Linked DNA regions of Homo sapiens. The protein of the gene in region 1 interacts with the protein of each later gene in a pairwise test. Each region holds a gene or a part of one and is shown in the gene's direction. Other genes may lie near its edges.

Region 1 (3,749 bases):
TGCTGCCAAAACAAACCCCAGAACATACTGCCTTTGCTGCTACCCATGCCAGCAAAAATGGACACCAGCGACACAAGTCACCCAACAGAGCCCTTTGTTGGTGTATATAATTAGTGGAACCTTAGTAGTGTATAAAATTAGTCACATACCCCATTCCAGTAGCAGGGGAGGCTGGGATTTCTTTTCCCCCTCAAATTCTACCTTGGAAAGGTAGGATTCATGATGTGGGGGATTATAAAAATGTGGATGGTGTTCAAAATATTTTGGACAGTCGTAAATGACAGATAGATATTCATTATATAGTGCCTGTCTCTTTGCATTCACTTTCTACATCCCTCCAAAGTCACCAAAATTCTGGCTAATTTGTGTCATAAATAGCTCAGGCATCTATTCACTTTCCCTATCCTCCCGGGCATTTCTTTAGTGTAAGTCACTCCATGGGGATGGGAAATAAAAGGTAGATAAGGGAAGGAGAAGAGAGATGCCTTGAAATTTGTGGGTTCTCTATAAATACTGTCAAATTAAAATTTAATTGTACGTAGTGCCAAAGGCAGAAAGAAATCTTAATTTTCTCCAAGGTAACAATATACTGTTCTTTTTAACTGAAACAAAACTCCCTGGATCTCTCTCTCTCTCTCTCTCTTTTTTTTTTTTTTTCTTCAGACAAGGAAGGCTCTGTTGCCCAGGCTGGAGTGCAGTGGCACCATCACAGCTTGACCTCCCTGGCTCAAGGTATCCTCCCACCTCAGTCTCCCAAGTAGCTGAGACTACATATACACACCACTACACCTGGCTAGTTTTATTTTATTTTATTTATTTTTATTTTTATGGAGACAGGGCCACCATGCCTGGCTACTTTAATTTTTTTTTTTTTTTTTTTTTTTTGGTAGATACAGGGTCTCACTCTGTTGCTCAGGCTGGTCTCCAGCTCCTGGGCTCAAGTGATCCTACCATCTTGGCCTCTCAAAGTGCTGGGATTACAGGTGTGAGATCTTGATTTTTACTTATGAACACATGCAAGCACTCTGTATGTGTTGGGTGGTGTACACTCTCGGGACAGGGAAGTTAGAGTTTCAATTGTGGCCATGGCTTCTTTACTCTTTCTGTGATCTTGAGCAGTCCCACAACTCTTAGAACTTAATTCATTATAGAAGTGTTGGAGAATTTCTGTGAGATAATCAGGCATAAATTTTTAAAGCATTAATATTGCTGAGATGTCCAAATGACTACATAAATTATGATCCACCTACACGCTAAACTGCTATGTAGCCATTAAAAAGAATGACGCTGCTCTAAATATACTAATATGAAACAGTTTCCAAGATATCCTGAGTGAAGAAAAGACAGTATAGAACAATGTATATAGTATGCTACCATTTTTGTATGTGTGCATGCCTTCACATATGTGTGCTTTTAAGGGATATAGGCATATTTAAGCTCGTAAATTCATAGACCATCTTTGTAAAGGTACACAAAGAACTGGCAATAGTGGTTGCCTTCAGAGAAGAGAACTTGAAGAGAACCTCCCTACTGGAGGCAGGGATGGTGGAAGGGGTGGGGGATGGAGAGAGTGGAGATTGAGCTTTTGAATTCTGTTCCATGTGCATATATTATAAATTCAAAAAAAGATATAGTTTATTTTTTAAGAACCTGGAATTAAGTCCTATCTATGAAAGCTGAAGAGATCAAAGTGAGAGGTAATTTAATTTGAAGCCCAGGTACAGCAGAAGTTTGGGGCTTCTGTGTTACTCATGCTTATCCACACCTTTATTTTTTCTTTTTCTAAAGCATCTGGGTCTTTAGTTCAAATATTTGCAGATCCATGGTTTACTGGGTAGAATTTTTGTTGTGGCATACATCAACATATTCCAAGTTTCTCTGCTTGGATGGAATAGATGCATGAAATTCTGTGAAATGATTAAGCTGTGAAAAGTAGAAGGACTTTGAATAGGCATTATTTTTCAAGATCTTAGAAATAGTTATGCCTGATAGTTTTATAATGTCTGTAGCGTATTTTGCAGTCCACAGAACGCACTCACATACATTATCAGCTGATCCGTCGCAAAGAAGCCTCATGTGATTCTTTCTATTCTCAGCTTTGTCCATGAACTAAAATTAGAACTAGGCTGACATTACATTTCACTTGGTTACAGCTGACTGGGGATTTTAATCATTTGGAGCCACACTGAAAAAAAAATTTCCCCCTGCAATCTACTCTTAACTGATAGTCGCTAACTTTGGTTATGTGTGGTAAGTATTTGACAATGGTAAGTATTTTTCAAAAACATTTTTCCTTTCTTCTTCACATGTAAATAGATTGCTGCTGATACCTATACTGTGTCTGTATTGGTTGGAATGTCCAAACAAACTGGAATAGAATTTAAAAGTTTTTTTGCGGGGTGTTCATGGTCACTCATATAATTGTGCTCCTCTGGAAGATAGATTTCCCCAGAAGTAAGAAACAATTCTTCTGCAATTCTTTTCTATGCTTACCTCACTTGTCACATTATGTGCTTTTTTTCTATTATGGTACTAATCAGAGTAGAGAGCAGTCCTGTGCTGGAGGAAGAAATATATCATTATTGACTTGTGTTTCCCTAGGGGAAGTTGGTTGTTATAGGAAAACTGATGGATGAGCAACATTTAATGGCAAATGAGGAAATGAATTAGCAAATGGATGAATTGTTTTACATGTCTTCTAAAATACATGTATACATGTAGATACTTGGGAATTCAAAAATATTTTTATTCGAGTATTTAGCAAAAACTTCAAACTTTCTTAAATTAGAGACAATAAATTGTAAATTGGTTGCAATATGCTCAGGAAGTTGGATTACCAGTGTATGTATCCCAAGGTTTCTTCACAGCAAAGAGATCTCGCATTCTGTTCCTGAGTAAATTCGGCATGCCTTGCTTAGAGATTCTCTCAACAATTTCCTGCCTATGCCAATTATTTATCAATCTTGAAATTTTAAACTTTTTTCTGTAATATAGTTCTCCTCTTTCTTTGACTGTCTCACACACATATATACTGCATAATATTAGTTTAAAAAATCAATAATTTAGAAGAGGTTAATAATGAAAAGCAATATTATCTATCCGATTCCTCTCTATCACCAGTCCTGCTCCCTAGAAGTAATCATTTTAACCATTTTGGAATTTAGTTTTCAGTGGTTATCTCCATATTTCTCTCTTTTTTTTCTTTTTCAAAGACAATTGCATGCTATTTTTAATCAACTTTAAACATCTGTGGAGCTTCATTATGAGAGGTGGGGATTAAGTTCCCTTACACTGCCATAGAGTTATATCCCTATTTTTAGCTTCTCTCTTGATTACCTTAATAACTTTAAGCAAATACTTTAATCTTTATTTCTTGTTCCATAAGGTACAGACAGTATCTGTTGATTCCCCACTTCGAAGATGTGGATATCGGTGTTCTTATCATTTACTTCTTTTCCTTATTTCCTTCTTCCATATTCTGTTAAAAGTACTGTCACTTTTATGTTTTCAAGATATATGGCATTTATATTCTGTTCTGTAACCCTCAATAAGTCTTCCTTACTTTTTTATAGATTGATTTATTTCAAAAGTTTAAGACCAATACATAGACTTTACTATGTAATTTCTGTTTTCTGCAGAGCCAACATTTCCTTCTCAGTATCAATGTCATATTCATTGTACTAAAGAAGAATGTTAAAATAGATTCTCCTTTCCTGCACTTCAATAAATGCTAAAAAATCATGCCACAT
Region 2 (3,749 bases), on another chromosome or scaffold:
ATCTCTTTTCCATTGACTCCTCTGATGCTTTTCCTGTTGTAATCATCTTAGCAAAATCTCTTACCTGTATGCTACCCCTCCCAGTGGAACATCTAGCACCACTCCCCTCATCCCAGCTCCAGCTGCCATTGACCTCCTCCCTGCAATCCTTTTCTAGGCTGTTACCCTTCCTAAGGTAATCCCCACCATCTCTTTCCCTCGTACCCCTCCCTAGTCATGGCCAACACACACCTTGCCTGCAGGTGTTCTTCAAGGCCGGGCTGCTGGGGCTGCTGGAGGAAATGAGGGACGAGAGGCTGAGCCGCATCATCACGCGTATCCAGGCCCAGTCCCGAGGTGTGCTCGCCAGAATGGAGTACAAAAAGCTGCTGGAACGTAGGTGAGAGATCTCAAGAGGAGGTTTCCCGCTTCTCTGAGGCCCAGGCTGGTTCAGGGGCAGTGTCAGGAAAAAAAGCTCAGCAGATCTTCAAACACAGAGACCTGCAGGAGGGGCTCATATGAACACACTGCAGTCACAGGGTCAGAGGCCTCAGGAAGGGTGGGAGGGATGAAGGAAATGGGATATTCCCAAGGTTTCAGGACCTCAGGTAGGAAGGAGGCAGGAGGCTCAGCACTCCTTTCAATGGGCCCCTGCAGAGACTCCCTGCTGGTAATCCAGTGGAACATTCGGGCCTTCATGGGGGTCAAGAATTGGCCCTGGATGAAGCTCTACTTCAAGATCAAGCCGCTGCTGAAGAGTGCAGAAAGAGAGAAGGAGATGGCCTCCATGAAGGAGGAGTTCACACGCCTCAAAGAGGCGCTAGAGAAGTCCGAGGCTCGCCGCAAGGAGCTGGAGGAGAAGATGGTGTCCCTGCTGCAGGAGAAGAATGACCTGCAGCTCCAAGTGCAGGCGGTGAGGCTCCTGGGCTACTGTTGGCTCTTCCACCCTGCTCTGCCTTCACTTCCCACAACCCTGCACCTCCCTGCACAGGGGCTCACTGTCTTGTTCCTTCAGTCAGAGGACTCTGGGATCAACACTTCTAAAGACCTCCAAAGAGGTCCCTCAGGAGGAGGAAAGGGCAGAGGGAAAAGAGCTGACTTTTAAAAGCACAGGCTTTCTACTTGGGTTCAACCTAGATACACAGCTTAATTATTTTGTGACCTTGGGCAGACCATGCATCATCTTTGAGCCTCAATTTCCTCTAGACAGGGAATAAAGCTGTCCATTTCATTAAGCCATCATACATAAGTGCTTGGCATCAGCAAATGCAATTCCCACCCTTCGATGGAGGAGACCAGAGGAAGAGGTCCAGATGAAGATTTCTGGTTCCTTTCCTCTCTGCTCCCCTCCCCAGTGTTCCCAAGTTATACTATCCTGAAACTCTTCCCCTCCCCATACTTCTGAAGCTCTTGCCAAGTGGGGATATCCTAGAGTTACCCTCCTATTTGAGTGATGTGCCTCTCCTTCCCTCTACCTGCAAGAATGAGGACCTTACCCCCTGAACAGCCTCCCCTCTGTTCCTCACCTTCAGGAACAAGACAACCTGGCAGATGCTGAGGAGCGCTGTGATCAGCTGATCAAAAACAAGATTCAGCTGGAGGCCAAGGTGAAGGAGATGAACGAGAGGCTGGAGGATGAGGAGGAGATGAATGCTGAGCTCACTGCCAAGAAGCGCAAGCTGGAAGATGAGTGCTCAGAGCTCAAAAGGGACATCGATGATCTGGAGCTGACACTGGCCAAAGTGGAGAAGGAGAAACACGCAACAGAGAACAAGGTAAGGGCAGCTCCCTTTGGCTCCAGCCCGGGTCTCATCAGGACTCTCAGACCATACTGACCTTGACCCAGGCTAGCCACTCGGCATCCAGAGAGCAGCATGGACCTTGACATGGAGCTCCCCACAGATGGCACCAAGCTGGTGACCTTTGACCCTAAAGGAGATGGGATTCTTGGTCGGCAGGTGAAAAACCTGACAGAGGAGATGGCTGGGCTGGATGAGATCATTGCCAAGCTGACCAAGGAGAAGAAAGCTCTGCAAGAGGCCCACCAACAGGCTCTGGATGACCTTCAGGCCGAGGAGGACAAGGTCAACACCCTGACTAAGGCCAAAGTCAAGCTGGAGCAGCAAGTGGATGATGTGAGTAGATTGAGAGTTGTGGGGCCTAGATATGCCATGTCTATCTGTGCCCAGAGCTCTGTGTGTGTGTGTGTGTGTGTGTGTGTGTGTGTGTGTGTGTGTGTGTGTGTTTGTGTTTATGTTTAGAGGGGGGTAGGGTTAGAGGATGTTAACTTTTCTGATATCTTTCTAGAAAGGAGCTGGGGAATGAAAAGTCAGAGGTGGTGATCAATTCTGAATTATGTATCTAATCTCACTGGTATGATCAATAATAGAGATGAGTTTTCTTATTTAATTTAAGTGCAATCCCATATATCTCTGCCTTTGACACAAGATTTAGAGGGTCATCTCATAAGAACATGATAAATTTCTTTGGAAATTTTGTGAGGCTCCCCAAGTAGAATTTTTGAAATTCCAATATTTAAGGCAGAATCTGATCATTGTTCCCTCTGATGCACATATGTCTGTTGACTCACTTATCACTCTGTATTTTAATTATTTAAGCTTCTATCTCAGCCATAAGACTACAAGCTTCCTTTAGATAGGAACTTAGATCTATTCAATTTGGGGACTGCAGTGCTTAGCACAGAGCCTGATGCCCAGTAGGTGTTTATAGGATGCTGAAAGAATGAATACGGCGGCCAGCCGCGGTGGCTCACACCTGTAATCCCAGCACTTTGGGAGGCCAAGGCGGGTGGATCACGAGGTCAAGAGATCGAGACCATCCTGGCCAATATGGTGAAACCCCATCTCTACTAAAAATACAAAAATTAGCTGGATGTGGTGGCGTGCGCCTGTAGTCCCAGCTACTCAGGAGGCTGAGGCAGAATAATCCCTTGAACCAGGGAGGCGGAGGTTGCAGTGAGCCGAGATCGCGCCACTGCACTCCAGCCTGGCGACAGAGTGAGACTCCATAAAAAAAAAAAAAAAAAAAAGGAGGAAGGAAGGAAGGAAGGAGAGAAAGAAAGGAGAGAAAGAAAGAAAGAAAGAAAGGGAAAGAAAGAAAGAATACGGCTTTGGGGTTTCATCCCACAGTCATTTATTCCTTTATCTATAAAATATTGATTCAGCATCCCCTATATCTAGGCAATCTCACAGTCCCCTAATAACATTTGGCCCACTCTGGGGAAGGTTTCCCAAGTCCTGAACACAAAGATTTACCAAGTCCTGAGGTAACTGAACAACAAAATCACCAAGTCAGGATGCTTTGCCTCACTGGGCCTGGCTCCTTCTCTCTACCAGCTGGAAGGATCCCTGGAGCAAGAGAAGAAGGTGCGCATGGACCTGGAGCGAGCGAAGCGGAAGCTGGAGGGCGACCTGAAGCTGACCCAGGAGAGCATCATGGACCTGGAGAATGACAAGCAGCAGCTGGATGAGCGGCTGAAAAAGTACTGTGTCCCCTCCCTGCTGCCCTTCCTCCTCCCCAGCCCATAACAGTACAAGCAGACCCAAGACAGCCATCCTCTGAGGCAACAACCTCACGCAGCCTCCACAAGTGGAGGCGCAAACCATGGGAAAAGGCCTCCCAGGCAAGGGCTTTCCTCCCCTAGTCCCAGATATCAGGGTTAGTTAGATGGTCCTCCCTGGCAAAAAGTCCATTGTATCCCATGAGTCCTTTCTTCTTGTTAGGCACTCAGTGGGAATGAAAATAACAGC

What was found. Proteins that work in one complex are often made in the same cells at the same time.
Region 2: the proteins of LRRC39 (region 1) and MYH7 interact in binary tests that used the Homo sapiens proteins (3 or more experiments, as listed by UniProt).

Annotation. Positions count from the first base shown.
Region 1 is NC_000001.11:100,176,636-100,180,384, reverse strand, and holds the start of LRRC39 (leucine-rich repeat-containing protein 39), read left to right. Parts: upstream 1-2,128; 5' UTR 2,129-2,250; exon of another isoform or gene 2,251-2,267; intron 2,268-3,749. UniProt on the Homo sapiens protein: Component of the sarcomeric M-band which plays a role in myocyte response to biomechanical stress. May regulate expression of other M-band proteins via an SRF-dependent pathway. Important for normal contractile function in heart.
Region 2 is NC_000014.9:23,421,912-23,425,660, reverse strand, and holds part of MYH7 (myosin-7), read left to right. Parts: intron 1-242; coding exon 243-379; intron 380-636; coding exon 637-892; intron 893-1,511; coding exon 1,512-1,754; intron 1,755-1,937; coding exon 1,938-2,114; intron 2,115-3,335; coding exon 3,336-3,481; intron 3,482-3,749. UniProt on the Homo sapiens protein: Myosins are actin-based motor molecules with ATPase activity essential for muscle contraction. Forms regular bipolar thick filaments that, together with actin thin filaments, constitute the fundamental contractile unit of skeletal and cardiac muscle.